Regions from separate parts of the Homo sapiens genome. Here region 2 is linked to region 1. The links come from fine-mapping of genetic effects on gene expression. A gene starts in region 1. The other region holds a variant in brackets. All regions are shown on one strand. Distances are from middle to middle.

Region 1 (5,370 bases):
CATTTCCGCTGGAATTCACACTACACATGGCACCTGCATCACACAGTCAGCCAGACGCCAGTTGTAACTGATTAGAAGCTATGAAATGGGCGCATTCTGGGGAAAAAAATCAGGACAGACTTTTCCAACTAGCCTTAACTAAAGATTCCACCTAAAACATTTCCCGGAGCTGAATCTACCATTTGCACTGTGGATATAAATGTTTCTCAACAGCCCTGGCCTCGGACTGGTAATAAGCACGCTGACAGGCATGCGCCTGTGGAAGGAAGACAAAAATCCAGAAATTTCTTCCTGCAGCTAGACACACAGAGAGGGTAAACAAACACACTGAGTTGATTAACAAATAAGAATCCTTCAGATTTGGACTTTGGCATGAGAACTGTGTCCAGATTTAAAACCGCATGGCAATCTGAAGCAGTCACATAGCATTTCCTGTGATGTCCCTGTCATTCCAATTCTACTTGTATTTATATAAAGTCATACATTTCAATTAATGTTGCAGCCATTAAAAAAACCCCTGGCTCCCACGTGACAGCCAAGGAAGGCATGCGTTTCCTAGGACAGGTGACTGAGTTCATGTGTGACAGCACCAGCCAGCATTCCCTGAGTGAAGATGGACTCGAAAAACCAGGGGCTTCTAACGCATCCTTCTTTCCTGGTTAACGAACAGCTTTTCGGTGTCTATACACAAACTTTTCAGAATGCATGTAGAGTCTCCAGTAAACAGAAGAGTACACAGGATGCTCAGAGGGAAAAGAACTATATATGGATCCTAAGTTTTTTTTTTTTTTGAGACGGAGTTTCACTCTTATCACCCAGGCTGGAGTGCAGTGGCATGATCTCAGCTCACTGCAACCTCTGCCTTCTGAGTTCAAGCGATTCTCCTGCCTCAGCCTCCCAAGTAGCCGGGATTATAGGTGCCTGCCACCATGCCTGCCTAATTTTTTTTGTATTTTTAGTAGAGACGGGGTTTCACCATGTTGGCCAGGCTGGTCTTGAATTCCTCACCTCAGGCGATTCACCCACCTCAGCCTCCCAAAGTGCTGGGATTACAGGCGTGAGTCACCATGCCTGGCCGGATTATGAGATTCTTAATAACTACCTAAGACAAATAGCTTGATTGTAAAATTGTCACAGATAAGTTCTTAAACCTGTAAACTAGAGTACTTAAAAAAATTCCACATTGCCATTCTTGGTAGCAAAATCTTCATCACCAAGGAGACCTGGCTAGTGCTACAGCTTGGGAAGGAAACAGCCTGTGCTCAGTAATTCTACTAATTACAGCTGGGCTCCAATGACATTAATTTACTGATAACCTCATAAAGTTTTGTTTGTTCTTCCAAGAGATAACATTAGCCAGGCCACTCAAAATAACGTTAAAATTACAGGACTTTGGACTTTCGGCAGAACATGAATAGTTTTCTCGGTAAACAAGGAAGGTCTTTATATGTGATCGTGACATAGTGTTTTATTTACACAAGCTTTAGAGGGTTCAGCCTCTGGACACTAGTAAAGAACGTTTATTTATTTGGTTATTTATGTAAAAAATATTCCACAACCCAGCTCTCTGCCTTGCTAACAAAGAAATGTTTGTTTCTTAGTAAATGAAAACAGTGAAGGCCATGTCAAGCCAAATGGAGAGAATAAAATTACTGCGAGATTCTGCTTTCCACGTAACTTCAGCCAAAACTCTAAAGTGGCAAGATCCGCTTTCAGATTATATTATATCGGCCTCTGAGGATTCTATGCAGATCTGCCACCCCTTGGAGAGGTTTACAAATAGGGAACAGAAATCCATGGCTCCCAAGAAGCCCTGGCCCCTCTCCTCGCTGGGCCACGAACCACTCCCCCAGCTACAACAGCGCCGGTGGTCCCTGCTTGCCCAGTGCCAGCGCCAAAGAGGTCTTGTGCGGCAGGTGCCTCTGACCAACATCACTGTTTCCGGGGAAAGGCCACACATACCAGAAACAACTGCTCCGGCCTTCCCAGGGACACTGGGTTCTCCCACGCCAGTAACCTATTCACAGTTTCCGTTAAAAGGTAGCTAAATACACGGAATAATGCAATAGCCAAAGCGGTTTAGAAGGGGCTTGAGTTAGCATTTTAGGAACACATTACAGACAAGGGAAGTGAACAGCACCGTTTCTTGCCGAGTGTGTGGCCAGTTCCTGTGGCCATGAGGCTGCCGCTAATCTCCACTTCTCCCTCCAAGTGGAAAGCCAAACGTGTTCCACCACTTCACCAAGGGACCCGTCCTTCTTTAAATTTCTATTAGCCAAAAGTGCCAAGTTAACAAGCAAACCAAAAGAAAAAAGAAAAAAAGCGATGGAAGTGTCCCGAAAAGGGCTGGCCTCATTTCTGCAAAAGACGTGATTTGCAAACAAGCAACTGCTGCAGGCGACAGATTGTCAGTGTTGACTAATTTCCATACAAACCGGCTGTGGTTCTGATTCCCGAACACTGCGTCTTCTGCAAGGTGCCCGTCTGCAGGTTTTGCAACGCGGGACGGCCTAGGGAAGGGAGCCTGCGCTGGCAGTCACCGCGGCGCACAGCCTGAGAAACGAGGTGCGGGGCTGGGGAACCCCGCGTCCTGTTTTTCCTTCTGAAAACTAGTTCTCCAGTGTGCAGGGCTGACTCACCCCACGCTTTCCAGAATGCCCGCTCTCCGACGTCCCCAAAGCCGTCCCTTCCCCGGCGAGAAGCGCAACACCGGTCCGCGCCCTCCGCCTCCCCTGTGCCCTGGGGCCTCCCGCCTGGAACCGGGGCGGCCCGCGTTCAAGGGCAGCGGATCTGTGCGCCCGCGGCGCCCGCCCCCACCCGCTCCCACCCGCTCCCACCCGCTCCCCTCCTCTCCCCTAGAGGACACCGGCTGGCCAGGGGAAGGGAGCTCGGCCGGGACCCCTGGACCTACTCACCCAGGAGCAGCCAGAGGCCGCGCCGCGGGAGGCGGCACAGGGCCCGGGCCATGGTGCACAGCGGTGCCGAGTCGAGTCCGCTCGCCACGCGCCCCGCTGAGGACTGAGCCCGCCGCGGCGCGGGCCCGGAGGAGACGCGCCGGGGGCGGGAGCGGGCGCGGGAGCGGTGGGAGGCGGCGGCCGCGCGGCCCGGCCCACTGCGGCTCCCCGCGTGGGTGCCAGGGCCGGGGGCGCCCAGGGCCGGTAAAACTTTGCAGGGGGGCCGCGCGGGCGTCTCCAGGCCCCTCCCGGGGGGCGGCACACTTGGGGTCCCAGGAAGGCCTCCTGAAATGTTCTCCGAGCAAATAAACACTTTTTAAACTAGGGAGGGTCTCCTAGACGACTCAGCGTGAGGGGCACCTTGGTCTCCACCTGGGGATCTTCCCCTCCTCCTCCTCCGAGGTTCTGGGCGTTCCTGCCTGGTGTTTGCCTTGCAAAAGGCTAAGATCTCCCAGCCTTATCTACCTCTCCGCCCAGGTGCAGGCGCTGGGGAGCGTGGGGGGCAAAACTCGCCACCGCGCCTGGCGAGACCCGTAGTAACCCAAAATGGCGCACACTTACCAGGCCCTGGAATGCTGCTCCAGATCTGCAGGATGAGTGGGTGGGCAGAGGCGGGGACAGCACGGCAGGTGAACAGAAGCCGTGGGGCTGGAGGAACAGGGCTCTTTGGGGGGATTGAGATGGCCTGGGAGTCTTGCTGTTGATGGGTAGGTAGCGAGAGCCTGGCAGGAGGTTGTGAGGGCCTGGCCACAGAGTCTTGAGATGAGGTTTGCTTTGGTGGCACTCTGGCAGCTGCATGGAAAACTGATGGGGGATCTTGGGTACATTCGTTTATGTAAAGTGGTGAGAGGAGGGCGCTCTGGAGATGGGCCGGGGAAGCCTGCGGAGGAGCAGGTTTTGGGAGGCACAGGCCTGGCCTCTCGGCATTACTGGTGGCTGGATTTCACTTGCAGTGGTTCCTTCTTGTATTATCCTGTTCCGAGAACTCTTAGCAACAGTAAATTTATACTTGTGCTAAGGAATGCACCACTGCCCTTGGAGGGGGAAGAATCACCACCCTGGTGCTGCGGCCACAGCTGTCTCTTTTGTGGTGGAAGCTGCAAGCGCACAGCATTGCTGAGTGACCATCGTTTTCTCCTAGGAAAGGGAACAGTCTGTGGCTGAGAGGCTGCTGCCACCTGCAGTAAGCTCAGAGAAGGGGAGACAGCTGACAGCGAGGTCATCCACTGGTTCTTCTAACACAGGCTGGGAGGGCACTCAGGGCCAGCATGCCTACCACCTGTGCAGGGGCCCCAAGTGTTCTGAGAGTGAGGGGTGAGATGGTGGGGGAGGGCACACATTCTCTTGACTTGATTAGCCCTTGTTCTTGAACCCTAGGAGATACACCCCATTGGGTGGCCTGGCATCCCTACTTTCTTCATTTAACAGACATTTGTGTCCCTATGTGCAAGACACTGTTAGATCGACAAGCCCTGCCCTTCAATTGGTGAATCTAGGGGGTGACCTCTAAGACTCTCAATAACATGAGCGCCACAATACAGGAGCCACCCGGAACAAGGGACACTCGCCTCAGCTGCAGTGCAAGTAAGGAGACAAAGGATTCTGGACAAAATGCAGCCCAGGCAGTCCTGAGGGCTGGGTGGAGAGAAGGGCACAAGGGAAATGCAGGCCCGAGCACAGGCCTGGCAGCCAGAGGCCGTGCCATGTGAGAGCAGCACAGCTAGTGGGGAAGGGTGGCTGCCAGCACAGCCCTGGGACAGGGCCACCGTACATCCTGCACTAGGCGATGGCCAGTCATAGTGGGGGAGAAGAACCTGCATCTTTCTGCAGCCATCACTCGCCCTCCATATCCAGGGACTCTGGCTTGAGCCACCCTTTCTACTTGTAGCTTGTGGACTTTGGCTGCATGTTTTTGGTTGGCAACTGGGACTCCTCTTTCATCAGGCTCAGCAGGAGTCTTTCTTCCCAACGTTTTCTCTTTGAAGCTTGACTGCAAGGAGGCAAGGCCAGAGGCCCCTGTCACTGCTGTTTTCTCAACACCCCCTAAAGGATACATTTTCCTAAGAAGACAAAGCCTATTTCTCAAGTTCACATGCTTTAGAAATTCACAGTTCTCTGGAGAATGCTGAAGTAAGGCACACACCTAGAGGCATGTTCTCTCCTAATGATTTTCCTGTCTGTACCTTGGGTCTAAGTAAGACATTCCTTAGCAACTACTATGGGCTTCCCGTCTTCAAAAGTTGTAGTCTGATGTATCTGTATTTCTAATTGGTCATAGGTAGCATGGAAAATCATTCCTCTCCCAGGGTACCTCAATCTAGAGGGGCATTAGGTTAAACAATAGAAGAGATTAGAAAATGGCCAAGTGCTTTACTGCATACACAGTAGGGCTAAAGATACAATCAAAGCCTGGTCA
Region 2 (5,370 bases), 46 kb before region 1:
AAAAATACAAAAATTAGCCAGGCACAGTGGCGGGCACCTGTAATCCCAGCTACGAGGGAGTCTGAGGCAAGAGAATCGCTTGAACCCAGGAGGTGGAGGTTGCAGTGAGCCGAGATCATGCCGAGATCATGCCACTGCACTCTAGCCTGGGTGACAGAGCAAGACTCTGTCTCAAAAACACCACCACCACCACCACCACCACCACCAGAGGTCTCTTCTCACTGGGGAAGGGACAGGACAGTCACACCCAAGACCCCGACAGAGTTTGCCACAGGGAAGAGGGGTAGGAATGCTGGGGTGAAGGGCACAGGGAAGGGCCTGTCTAAACTGAGGCTGGACCAGTACACAGAGAACCCACCCCAAGCCTTGAACATAACCTTGGTAGAATAACAAGCAGCAGCTGTCTACTGCCGAGAGAAAGTGGGGTAAGATCCATGCTGCAGCACAGGCAGGCAAGAGAAAGCTGAAAGCAGAGGGTGGGGCACCACACTGAGGAATCTCCTCCAGTGCCCTAGTCCCAACCCTGGGCACAAGGCAATGACAGCTCATTGCTAGAGGTACTTGAGGCCTATGGTACATTGAAGATAACCATAACAATGACAAATCCCAAACCCAGCTCAATTCCTAACAAGATTGACTCAAATCCCACACTAACGGTCTGACAGAAGAGGATTACCCATTTCCATATGTAAATACTATTGACCGTAGTCACCTCTGTTCTATACATGAATGTTCAGTATTCAATAAAAATTATATATTTTTTGTTCAGAAGCAACAAAAAACAACCAACCCATTGTCAAGAGGCAAAACAATGAATGGAGTTAGACTCAGAGACGACCTAGATGTTGTAACTATCAGACAGTTATGTTAGAATGGCTAGTATGACAACGGGTCTAGTGGAAATGGCAGACAATATGCATGAACAGATGGAGAATTTAAGCAGAGAAGTGAAAACTCAAAGTCAAAGACAGTTGCTAGAAATAAAAAGATATGGCATCAGAGAGAATTCCTTCAATGGGCCCATCAGCAGACACGAAAACTGAGGAAAGAGAGAAATTGAAGATGTCAGTAGAAATTAACCAAACTGGAACACAAAGAGAAAAAAAAGTGAGGGAAAACCAGAGCATCCAAGAACTGTGTAACATGACAATCCTATAAATGACATCAACCTCAACTCATAATGTGAGAGTCCCAGAAAGAGGAGAGGGAATGGAGCAGAAGAAATATTTGAAGAGATAATGGCTCAGGCTTTTAAAAAAATAATGAAAGACATAAAATCGCAGATCCAAGAAGCTTGGAGAACCTCAAGCAGGACAGAAAACAAAGCAGCTACAACAGCAAACAACCAAATAGACACATCAAACTCCAACTGCTGAGCACCAAAGAAAAAGGAAAAAATCTTGAGGTCAGAGGAAAAAAGACATACAGAAGAACAGTGAGTTACAGCAGATTTCTTAATTTCTTATCAGAGGCTTGTCATGTGGGAAGACAATGGGCAACATCTTGAAAGTATTAGAGGTTGCGGGGAGGGGAAACACATTTGTCAGCCTGGAATTCTATACCTAGAAAAAAATACCTTTTGAAAATGAGGTTGAGGCTGGGCACATTGGCTCACACCTGTGATTCCAGCACTTTGGGAGGCCAAGGCAGGCGGATCACTTGAGGTCAGGAGTTCGAGACCAGCCTGGCTAACATGGTGAAACCTCATCTCTACTAAAAATACAAAAATTAGCTGGGCATGGTGGCAGATGCCTGTAATCCCAGCTACTCGGGAGGCTGAGGCAGGAGAATTACTTGAACCTGGGAGGCGGAGGTTGCAGTGAGTTGAGATCACGCCATTGCACTCCAGCCTGGGTGACAGAGCAAGACTGTCTTTAAAAAAAAAAAAAAAAAAAAAAAAGAGGTTGATATAAGAACCTTTTGAGAAAAAAGCAGCTGAGAGAATTCATTGCCAGCAGACCTGTGCTACAAGAAATGTCAAAGAAAGTTCTTCAGTGATAAGAAAGAGTTTGAGATCCACATAAATAGATGAAGGGCTCCAAAAACAGTGAAAATGAAGACAATAGAAGGGTACTTTTCCTTATATTTAATCTAGAAAGTGAGTAAATGGATCAGAGGCCATAAATTAAATGTGAGGAGACCCCTGGGGGCTTTAAGAGGCTATACAGAAAAAGTAGGGGCCTCTCCGGCATCCCAGCACCCCTCTACCCCCGCCCCTATCGTACGGTCACTGTTTTTCCTTCCTGGCTGCCCTCTAGGTCACTGCCCTGAGTGTGCAGGGCCTCCCTTAGCCCATCCAAGAGGCCTAGTAGATGAGGCATGAGGAGGGAGAGGCAGCAGAGAGTGTGCCGTGCCTGTAGGCATTGGGGTGTGTGGTCTCTCCAGGTGAACAAGGACTCATGTTTCAAGAAGAAAACAGAAGTGGAAAAAGCCACA[T/G]GAAGTCGTGACGGTTTGAGTCTCATCGTGGGGGAAAAACGAATGAGTGCACGTTATGTGGCCGGTCCATGGTAAATGTTAGACGTGTTATTGTTGCTGAAAACCAAGTCCAGCCTTCTCAACTACAGGGCTAAACAGTGAGAATGCTGCCTTTTTTTTTTTTTTTTTTTTGAGACAGAGTCTTGCTCTGTTGCCCAGGCTGGAGTGCAGTGGTACAATCTCAGCTCACTGCAACCTCCGCTTCCCAGGTTCAAGCGATTCTCCTGCCTCAGCCTCCTAAGTAGCTGGGACTACAGACATGGTCCACCATGCCTGGCTAATTTTTGTATTTTTAGTAGAGATGGGGTTTCACTATGTTGGCCAGGCTGGTCTCGAACTCCTGACCTCAGGTGATCTACCCTCCTTGGCTTCCCAAAGTGCTGGGATTACAGGCGTGAGCCACTGCATCTGACCAATGAAGCCTGCTTTGAATGATGATCCTCTCCCATATCTCAGACCCACCAAACCCGCAGGCAGTTTAGTTTTTGGTGTTCTGCAGATCCAGTGACACATGATCCTGAACACTGACCCCTGTCCTCTGAGGAGCGGAGCTGTGGCATTTTTAGGAGGAGCTATTGCCATCTCTGCACTGGCCAAACAGAACAGGAAGGAGCGGATGCAGGAAGCCACGCCACCACAGAACCCACGCCGAGGCCACGCTGAGGCAGATAGGGCCGTGTGTGGGTGGGCTATTCTGGGATCAGGCACTCTCTCCTTGATATGTCAGCCTTCTGGATTGCAGTGCCACCCACGTCTAAAAATATCTCTAATGTGCAGTCGGCTGCCCACTTCATCCTGTTTATTTATACAGAAGTGACAGCTGAAACTTTCAATAAATGTTGTGAGCTCCGTCAGTGAGGATGTGATAAAAGAATTCCCCTCAGAGTACAGACATTCTTCTGCCCAAAAGAACACAGAACGGACTGAAGGACCCAAAATAGTCATGAAAAATACACCCTGGCTTTAACTCCCTAAAGTTTCAGTTCTCGTGTCACTGAGTAATTATCCTTTTTTGGCTAGGACCTTCTATTCTGGGGCTCGAAGCAAACTTTGCTTGGAATGTTCCTGAATCCTATGGTGGGAGTTTCCAGCATATCTGGGTCCCAAGTCAAGGCCCGACACCACTGTTCATGGTTACTTGCTGGTAAGAAAGTGTGATCACTGATGCTCACAGGTGAGTCATCTACTCTGGGGACACCCTGGGTTGCAGTTGTCCCCCAGCTACCCCCGGCTGGCCCTAATATGAAATATCTGAGCCTGGGCCCTGTCACCCATAGACCTGGGTTCAAATCCCAGCTCCACCTCTTACCCAGAGTGATCCTGGAGACCTCATTCGCTTGTTCAAGTCTTAGTCTCCTATTAAGATAAAGATACAGGTCCTCACTTGACTGGCTCATGACGTATACATTTCTTGTCCTTTTTGAGTTTATACTTAAGCAAAAGGTGACCAGGCAATGTGTGTCTAAATTGTCAGAAAATCTGAGGGGAAAGCACTTTTGGCTTTATATTCGCTTTTTAAAATTTATTTATTATTTTAGACAGCGTTTTGCTCTGTTGCTCGGGCTGGAGTGCAGTGGCACGATCTTGGCTCACTGCAACCTCTGCCTCCCGGGCTCAGGTGATCCTCTTGCCTCACCCTCCAGAATAGCTGGGATTACAGGCGTGCACCACCACACCTGGCTAACTTTCATTTATTTATTTATTTTGATTTTTATTCTATTTTTGAGACAGAGTCTTGCTCTGTTGCCCAGGATGGAGTCCAGTGGCATGATCTCAGCTCACTGCAAGCCCCACTTCCTGGGTTCATGCCATTCTCCTGCCTCAGCCTCCCGAGTAGCTGGGACTACAGGTGCCCGCCACCACGCCCTGGCTATTTTTTTTTTTTGTATTTTTAGTAGAGACGGGGTTTCACCGTGTTAGCCAGGATGGTCTTGATCTCCCGACCTCGTGATCCGCCCGCCTCAGACTCCCAAAGTGCTGGGATTACAGGCGTGAGCCACTGAGCCCGGCCCAATATTTCTTCTAGAAATACAAATGACTACTAAGCATGTGAAATGAAAGACCAAACATCCAGATGGCACTCCTCTTAAAAAGGAGAATGCTAGGCTGGGCGTGGTGGCTCACACGTGTAAACCCAACGCTGGGGGAGGCCTAGGCCGGAGGATTGCTTGAGCCTAGGAGTTTGAGAGCAGCCTGGGAAACATAGTGAGACCTTGTCTCTACAAAAAAATACAAAATGGCTAACACAGTGAAACCCCAACTCTACCAAAAATACAAAAAATTAGCCGGGCGTGGTGGCGGGTGCCTGTAGTCCCAGCTACTCGGGAGGCTAAGGCAGGAGAATGGCGTGGACCTGGGAGGTGGAGGTTGCAGCGAGCGGAGATCGCACCACTGCACTCCAGCCTGGGTGACAGAGCGAGACTCTGTCTTAAAGAAACAACAACAACAAACATTTGCCAGTGCTGGGATGCACCTGTAGTCCCAGCTAGTTGGGAGGCTTAGGTCAGAGGATCACATGAGCCCAGGGAGGTGGGAGATTGAGGCTGCAGTGAGCTATGTTCCTGCCACTGCACTCCAGCCTGGGCAACAGAATAAGACCCTGTCTCAAAAAAAAAGAAAATAATGCTGAATGCTAGTGAAGGTGTAGGATACTGAGGCAGGCACTCATAGCAATCCTCAGGGAAGATAAACTGGTACAATTTTTCTGAAACACAATTTGGCAATATGTATCAATAATCTCAAACTCACGGATGCCTCTTGACCCCGTAATTGCATTACTGGGAATTATCCTAAATTAATAATGTGAAATATAGATAACAGTGATGTAAGAAGGTGTCCACTGCAGATTTATAATTATGAAAAACAGCAAACAACAGGACAGCGGTCACAGAAATT

What was found.
Region 2: its variant is fine-mapped to the expression of RAMP1 in whole blood (TOPMed, PIP 0.99).

The regions. Positions count from the first base shown.
Region 1 is chr2:237,857,273-237,862,642 of GRCh38, reverse strand. RAMP1 (receptor activity modifying protein 1) reads right to left here and starts at 3,020. Exons shown (of 3, transcript NM_005855.4): 1 at 2,916-3,020. The coding sequence starts at 2,967. RefSeq lists enhancers at 3,633-4,419, 4,420-5,208.
Region 2 is chr2:237,903,248-237,908,617 of GRCh38, reverse strand. The region is part of intron 2 of RAMP1 (receptor activity modifying protein 1); the gene reads right to left. Among named protein-coding and RNA genes, the nearest start is that of RAMP1, 46 kb to the right of the region's middle. The variant T/G (reference allele first, on the strand shown) is at 2,437.